Linked DNA regions of Homo sapiens: region 2 is linked to region 1. The links come from fine-mapping of genetic effects on gene expression. A gene starts in region 1. The other region holds a variant in brackets. All regions are shown on one strand. Distances are between the middles of the regions. Region 1 holds the start of PPDPFL (pancreatic progenitor cell differentiation and proliferation factor like). Region 2 has its middle 31 kb from the start of PPDPFL.

Region 1 (4,403 bases):
AGCAGACAGATCTTTTATTCTCACATTTGAAAGCACAGGTTCAGAATGGAAAAACGATTTAAACCACCAGGTGGATTCTGCCACTTCAGGCAACCCTATTAAATAAAATTCATGTTACTCCTTATCAAACAAATTTGAGATTGAAAATAAAAAGAAATAATAAGGATGACACTGAAAGAAATAACTAAGTACCTTGCTGTGGTTTGTCGTCATCTATGAAGTTAACAGAATCAGAGCTAGTTAAAGAACTAACTGAAGAAACACTGGACTCTGTAGGAAACAAATGATATTAAACAAATAAATAACTGGCAACCAGACAAGCAAATCCGCATCATTTATATACAAACTGTCAAGTAGCATGGTTTGAAATCATTTATTCCTGGCTTGTGAATTCATGAATTGAAAAACTGATCAAATTACCAATCAATAGAAAGCTGCTATATTAAGAAATACTATGTTCTACTGATAAGATATACTCATTTCCAAGGCAGGAAACTCACTCTCTCCTTGGATATCAATGTTGAATTTAAAATGTATTATAAATGTTTTCAGATTCAAAAACTAAGAAAGAACAAGACCAAGAATAAATATTGTTGTACTACATTAGAAATATTACATATATGTATATTTAAAGTTCTACAGAAGTCATCAAATCTAGAAATTAAGGAATTATTTGGAAAGAACAAACATTTTGTCTTATTAGGCTTGTATTTAAAACCTATGTCTCTTATAAGATCAGAATATAAAAGTAACTCCTGTGGATAAATAACACCAAGTAAATGAGCGTAAACTTTTGTAAAATGAATAAATCAGTAGTTGTCTCTAACACTTATACTACAAACAACCCTTGAAAGAAGAGTTTTCTATGTGTTGTTGCCATAGATACTTGTAATAACTACTAATTTGGTTCTGAAATGCTTATTTTATTTTATGAAATTTCTCAATCTTCTCTAAGAAGCTACAATTTTCTATTTGGCCATGAATATGAACAGATGGATAGATTAATAAAAATAAAACTGGCCAGATAGAAGTTGGCCTATTATCCATAGCAGAAGATGGAAATTAGAAAATTTTTGAAGCAAAGTCATGCTATCTTTTCTTTTCTAAGGAGTTGAATAATACTTTATTTATGTAAAATTATCAGTTTTTAGTGAATCTTACAGAATGCAAGGTACATAAAATTAAAATGTACTAATGAAACATAAGCCGATGTTCACTGATTTTTAAGTGTCAATGGCTTCAACGATACAGCGTAGCTAGAACAAAGAAGTGCCTGTCAGCACTGGATCAGAGAAGTCCCTGAGGCCTCCTGCTTTCTTCATTGTCACCAATAGTTCTCTCCCTTAAGTTCTGAAGGTAACATGATACCTGTGTTAACAATATCCCACAAACATCACCTCAAATCATATTATCTAGGGACGTCTCTATGATGATGCAACTTACTTCGATAATACTGATTTCTGGCTAGAAGGCAACCAATGGAAGGTACGGATGCCATGGCTTTACCCGTGAGAAAGCACCCAAGAAGCTGTGAGCATTAATCTGAAACAGCGACAGAGAAAAGAGACATTGATATGAATAACAGGGAGTTTCCTTTTCTTTTTTCCACGTGACTGTTACAAAGTATTATCATTTACCATGTAATAAATATATGATAAAAGGAATTTAAATGTTTACACAAAAGTTCAACCAAATATACTGCAATAAAAAGATGCAATTAAGTAGTACATTTAGGTGAAAAAGAAAAACTATACATCCAACTATACACAATGCACAGAACTTACTCCATCTAAAACAGACCTAAAGGTCAGAGAAGTGTTAACTCAGCCATGAGGTAGTCACTCACCGATTTGTTTTCTCCAATTCGTTCTTTTAAAATAAACGTGGTTCTAAAGTTTCTTCAGAAAATACATGCTTTGAAAGAACCAGTTCTTAGGGATTGAAGAGAGGCTGCACCACATACGCAGGGCCAGTGGTAGGTCCGTGATGGGAGACCCCTGAGCACACCTTATATTTAGAAGCCCCAGGCTGGCTGGAACCTGAGCTGTGGGTGACTCGGAGTGAGGTGGGCACACAGCCAGCCAGAGGCAGCAAGCAAGCACTCTCTGCACGTCTGCCCTCCAGCCTGCCAAAGGCCCTCCGAACGCAGCAGCCTGCCAAGTTTGGCTGCAGTCAGCAGGGAAGGACTTGGCCCAATGCTCTTTTGGACTCAGCCTCTTTAATATCACAACCGCTGGTGACTACAGAGAGGGAGGCGATACACAAGTGTCTCCTCAGCCTTAGATACAATCACACACTCCACCTGCAGCACCACGCTGGGCACGTGTGGGATGTACAAGCAGCCTGCTATCTGGCTGGGGAGACTGAACATACCTGCCCACAGTTTCAGTGAGGCAAGGCAGAGTCCCACGGTCAAAGCGGAGCAAGAAAGCACTCTAGGAAACATTGAAGTCTTCCTGAAAGTGGGACAGAGTCAGTGGAACTTGATGGACAGATGGACAGTGAGTTAGAAATTCTAGCAGGAATGACAAGAGAAATGGAAATCATGGGTAATAAGAGGATATTTATGACATTGTATCAATATCATTTACTGATACAAAAGCTAAATTTTATTCTGATTTTAGTAACAAATTTCTCGGATAGATTGCTTTGCCCTTTTTTTTTTCTTTTCCTGAGGCGGAGTCTCACTCTGTCGCCCAGGCTGGAGTGCAGTGGCGCGATTTGGGCTCACTGCAAGCTCCGCCTCCCAGGTTCACGCCATTCTCCTGCCTCAGCCTCCCCAGTAGCTGGGACTACAGGCACGCGCTACCATGCCTGGCTAATTTTTGTATTTTTAGTAGAGATGGGGTTTCACCGTGTTAGCCAGGATGGTCTCGATCTCCTGACCTCGTGATCCACCCGCCTCAGCCTCCCAAAGTGCTGGGATTACAGGCGTAAGCCACTGCGCCCGGCCTGCTTTGCCCTTTCACAGACTCAGTTGACTTACGCATCAAATTGTGGCTCCCTTTACATTGAGGGGTGATTGTGGCCATTGCTGATTCGATTTGTTCAGTGGCTATTGGTTGTGTATTCCTAACACAATTTTTGTAGCGTATACATTGCTAAAAAATTATTCATGTCAGCTAGGTTTTCAAATGTATTCAAAACATTTACTGTAGTATGCCATCATGGTTCCTTTCAAATATTACTCCAGACACAGGACAAAAAGACAGCTACATGATCCCACTTACATGTGGAATCTAAAAAACTGAAACAGACAACAGAAGAGTGATTACCCGAGGCAGGGAGATCGGGGAGTCAGGAGATGTTGGCCAAGGGTACAAAAGCTGCAGTTATGTGGGATGAATACTTCTAGAGATCTAATGTACAGCAGGATTGTAGCTAATACTGTTCCACTGCGTACTGGAAATTTTCCAAGAGAGCAGATTTCAGGTGCTCTTAACACACACACACACTCATGCACACATACAAAATAAAAGAACCATATGATATGGCTGTGTTAATTTGCTTGAGTGTAGTAATCATTTTAGCATGTATAGATATTTCTAAATGTCATATCATGTTGTACATCTTAAATATACACAATTAAATAAAAACAAAATAAACAAATAATAAATATCTACTTCACCTGACCGTCCTTCCTTTTTGTTGTTAATATCATTTATTTAGGCCTCTTCTCCCTCTCTGCTTTAATAATTAGTTTTGCTACACCTTTGTCTACTAAAGCCAATTTTTTCAAAGAAATATTTAATCCTCTCTTGTCTCTTGGTTTTGTATTTCTTTATTTTCTGTTATGCTTTAATTCTTCTTCCTTTTAGTTACTCCAAAATTACACTTCTTGTCATTTATTTCAAAATATTTTATAACTACAATTATCACATTTCTTGAGTGTTTAGGAATGCTTCCTCTTTTCCAAAAGTGTAAGACTTTCTTTAACTTTGAAGTTCAAGGGTACATGTGCAGGTTTGTTACACAGGTAACACGTGTTGTGGCATTTGCTGTACAGATTCTTTCATTACCCAGGTATTAAGCCAAGTACCCGTTAGTTATTATCCTGATCCTCCCCCTCCTCCCGCCCTTCACCCTCCAATAGACCCCAGTGTCTGTTGTGCCCCTCGATGTGTCTATGTGTTCTCATTATTTAACTCCCACTTTTACGTGAGAACATGTGGTATTTAGTTTTCTGTTTCTGTGTCAGTTTGCTAAGGATCATGGCCTCCAGCCCCATTCGTCTTCCTGCAAAGGACATGATCTCATTCTTTCTTAGGGCTGCATAATATTCCATGGTGTCTATGTATCACATTTTCTTTATCCAGTCTACCACTGATGGGCATCTAGGTTAATTCCATGTCATTGCTATTGTGAATAGTGCTGCAATGAACATACATGTGCATTGAGATGGA
Region 2 (4,403 bases), 31 kb after region 1:
CAGCTGCTCTGGAGCCAGGCAGACCTGGATTTGAATCCGGACTCTATCACCTGTGATGTTAGGCACAGTTCCCCCATCTCTGAATCCCAGTTATCTAAGATCATAACATTACCCACTCCCAAGGATCTACATAAGGACTTAAACAGAGAGCAATGTTTATAGACTGTATAGCTGGTGCTAGCACTAGATTGCCATTTATTTCCCTCATTTCCCTTCTCCTTCTGTAGGTGCTGGGGGTGCAAGGAAATATAACAGTCCCCAAGCTCTCGGGAAGTTGCAGCTCTTTGGGAGAGATAACACATGAATCGAGTTCACAAAATACAAAGCAATCAGTCGTGGGGGCAGTTACTATGTAAAAGCTGGAAATTAAAATTATTCAAATATCAATGGCAACCTAAAGCCATAATCATACCGCCAACAAGGTCTGAGATCTGTTGGCCTCCTGTGAGAAGCCCTCCTCCACAGGCTTACAGTTCCTGTGTGTAGACACATTATGCAATGACTACCGCATGAGTTCACCAGCATCTGCTCTTGACATTGGATGAGTACCCAACCATCGTTTAATGGGGTTTTCCCTTTCCTCTTCCTACTATTGCCACACGTGGCCCACACCTGTGACAAGGGAAGAAAGACTCACTGCTATTGTAGCTCAACAAGGAACAAAAGCCTGTCCCTTGCAGAGGAGGAGTCACCCCACATCTTTAGTCACAGGCTGTGGGGGAAAGAGGAGTGAGCTTCTATGGAGGCCAAGGACCCTGAGGCACATCCTGAGCTCAGACCATGGGAAAGGGACAATAAGACATTTGCCTGCTCCTATTCTGTCCTCTGTCCAGATACTACTATGTTGATGATTAGGTTGAACTATGCAAAACTGATGATTTTTGACCTACAAAAAGTGGCCCATCACATGATCCTGCCTGATCACTCCTGCCTAACTACTGAAGCTCATCTCCCCCAGGTAGGCACCTCCCTGACTGGCCCGCTGGGTTAAAAGCCCCCTGGGAATCCCCAGCACAGCCTGAAAGCTGAGCACTGCACTGACTTCACTGTGTTTAAGTGATGGGTGCTTCTGATGCCTCGTTCTTAAATCCTTTAACAGAACACAGGGGCTCCTAAAAGGGCTAATACTCCCTGTTTCCAAATCAGTGATGAGTGATTTTAAAACTACCTAAGATTGGTTCAACATTAGTTCTCAACAAGACTGAGTATTTAAAATGACACAAATAATCTATCCACTTAGGTTATTTCATACACACACACACACACACATTTTTAAAGTAATTTTGTGATTAAAATTTTAATATGCTGATGCTTTGAGTAAAGACCAGCTCTAACCATCAGCTTCATTTAAAAAATTTATTTATTAAATTTACCACTCCCTCTCCCTCTCCGTCTCCCTCGTCGTCTCTGTCTCCCGCTTTCCACGGTCTCCCACTCTCCCTCGTCTCTGTCTCCCGCTTTCCATGGTATCCCTCTGTTGCCAAGGCTGGACTGTACTGCCGCAATCTCGGCTCACTGCAACCTCCCTGCCTGATTCTCCTGCCTCAGCCTGCCAAGTGCCTGGGATTGCAGGTGCATGCCGCCACGCCTGACTGGTTTTTGTATTTTTTGGTGGAGACAGGGTTTCGCCGTGTTGGCTGGGCTGGTCTCCAGCTCCTGACCTCTAGTGATTTGCCTGCCTTGGCCTCCCGAGGTGCCAGGATTGCAGACGGAGTCTCGCTCACTCAGTGCTCAATGTTGCCCAGGCTGGAGTGCAGTGGCATGATCTCGGCTCGCTACAACCTCCACCTCCCAGCCGCCTGCCTTGGCCTCCCAAAGTGCTGAGATTGCAGCCTCTGCCTGGCCGCCACCCCGTCTAGGAAGTGAGGAGCATCTCTGCCTGGCCGCCCATCATCTGGGATGTGATGAGCCCCTCTGCCAGGCCGCCCAGTCTGGGAAGTGAGGAGCGCCTCTTCCCGGCCGTCATCCCATCTAGGAAGTGAGGAACGTCTCTGCCTGGCCACCCATCATCTGGGATGTGGAGAGCGCCTCTGCCCGGCCACCCCATCTGGAATGTGAGGAGCACCTCTGCCCGGCCGCGACCCCATCTGGGAACTGAGGAGCGCCTCTGCCCAGCCACCCCATCTGGAAGTGAGGAGCGTCTCCACCCGGCCGCCCTGTCTGGGAGGTGGGGGGCGCCCCCGCCTGGCAGCCACCCTGTCTGGGAGGTGGGGGGGTGCCCCCGCCCGGCAGCTGCCCCGTCTGGGAGGTGGGGGGCGCCTCTGCCCGGCCGCCAGGTCTGGGAAGTGAGGAGCCCCTCTGCCTGGCCGCCACCCCGTCTGGAAGGTTTACCCAACAGCTCATTGAGAACAGGCCATGATGACGATGG[C/T]GGTTTTGTCAAATAGAAAAGGGGGAAATGTGGGGAAAAGAAAGAGAGATCAGATTGTTACTGTGTCTGTGTAGAAAGAAGTAGACATAGGAGGCTCCATTTTGTTCTGTAATAAGAAAAAATTCTTCTGCCTTGGGATGCTGTTAATCTATACCTTACCCCCAACCCCGTGCTCTCTGAAACATGTGCTGTGTCAACTCAGGGTTAAATGGATTAAGGGTGGTGCAAGATGTGCTTTGTTAAACAGATGCTTGAAGGCAGCATGCTCGTTAAGAGTCATCACCACTCCCTCATCTCAAGTACCCAGGGACACAAACACTACGGAAGGCCACAGGGTCCTCTGCCTAGGAAAACCAGAGACCTTTGTTCACATGTTTACCTGCTGACCTTCTCTCCACTATTGCCCTATGACCCTGCCAAATCCCCCACTCCGAGAAACACCCAAGAATGATCAATAAATACTAAAAAAAGAAAAAAAAAAAGAATGATGGATACCTGTAAAGATGTTATTAAACGAATAATCTGAGGTTGGTAAAAAAAATAATAATAATAAAAGAGACCTGAATGGTGCATGTTTGCCCCTTCTACTATGTAAGGACACAACAAGAAGTCACCATGTCTGATCTAGGAAGCAGGCCCTCAACCAGATATTACTGGTGCCTTAAATTTGAACCTCCAAGCCTCCACAACTGTGAGAAATACATTTCTATTTTTTATGTTACCCAATCTGAGGTACTTTGTTATAGCAGTCTGAACAGTCTAAGACAGACATAACAAGGGAAAAAAATGACTTTGTGTTTCCAGTTAATAAACTTTCCATATCAGGGTGAAGTAGGACTATACCTTCATAGTCATGACTGGTACAGTTATTTAAAAAATCTCTTGACTCCATCTGCAATGCTGAAAAATGCTTTTTGGACAGAGAATAACTTTGATACAGAATGAGTATGTTACAGGAAAAAAAATTATGCTCTTTTAAATGTATTTACCTTTAAGTTGATAACTTTTAAGCAAAATACGAACATGTTTTCATTTTTCCTCTTTAAAATTATACACAAAAACATAGAAACTTATGCTATCAAAACTATAGTTATAAAATATTTTAGTCAATTAACAGAATAAATTTTTATGCTCTTATTAAAAAATAATAAAAATAAATTTACCAAAATTCTATATATTTATGGTGTACACCATGATGTTTTGAAATATGTCTACATTGTGGAATGGCTAAATCAGGCTAATTAACATACTTACCCTTTTTTGTAACGAGAACACAAAATCTACTTGCTCAGCAATTTTCAAGTATACAATACGTCATGATTATGGTCACCATGTTGTACAATAGATCCGAAATTATTCCTCCTGTCCAGCTGAAATTTTGTATCCTTTGACCAACATCTCCCCATTCCCCCAACCCCTGGCTTCTGGCAACCACCATTCTACTCTCTGCTACTATGAGCTTGATATTTTTAGATTTTAGATTTTTTTTGGAGATCATGAGGTGCTTGTCTTTTGTGCTCATCAGCTTCCTTAGTTGCGAAGAGTGGAGAGGGACTTAAGTGTGACCTTGGACTTAATTACAGTGTTTCTGGAACCTAACAACTTATTCCACAAGATTTAGGCTAGAATAACTTCCCTTTACTAATCTACTTAAAACAAACAAATGCTCTTCCCTTGATTGAACATATAACCAAGCTCACCCATCTGAAGTCCTTGCATTAATACAGTATTGGGTTTCTGCAAACAACCTCTGTTTTTAGCCACTTAGCTGATGATCCAAGGTAGAAGGCACTATGCCCATTTTCCACAGCAACCAACTTCCAGGAAGAATGTGCTTAGAAGAAGTAAACAGCAGACAAAGGGGCAGCCCAATGACACATCTATTTTGAGAGCAGTTGACCTAGATATTCTAACATTGCAATTAGGAAAGACACTGGCCTGCACTAGGCTCTTTCAGACTCTGTGTAGATGGGCTGGGGTACATGCTATTGGCCAACAGCAGTTTAGGGCCAGGGTCCTCTGGGGTGGTCTTGGG

What was found. PIP is the estimated chance that this variant, and not a neighbour inherited with it, causes the effect. A credible set is the group of variants that fine-mapping cannot tell apart.
Region 2: its variant is the best candidate, but not a certain one, in a credible set for the expression of PPDPFL in skeletal muscle (GTEx, PIP 0.61).

Annotation. Positions count from the first base shown.
Region 1 is chr8:49,069,926-49,074,328 of GRCh38, reverse strand. PPDPFL (pancreatic progenitor cell differentiation and proliferation factor like) reads right to left here and starts at 1,985. Exons shown (of 5, transcript NM_001256597.2): 1 at 1,847-1,985; 2 at 1,444-1,542; 3 at 193-270; 4 at 1-95. The coding sequence starts at 1,498.
Region 2 is chr8:49,039,335-49,043,737 of GRCh38, reverse strand. No RefSeq gene overlaps it. Among named protein-coding and RNA genes, the nearest start is that of PPDPFL, 31 kb to the left of the region's middle. The variant C/T (reference allele first, on the strand shown) is at 2,369.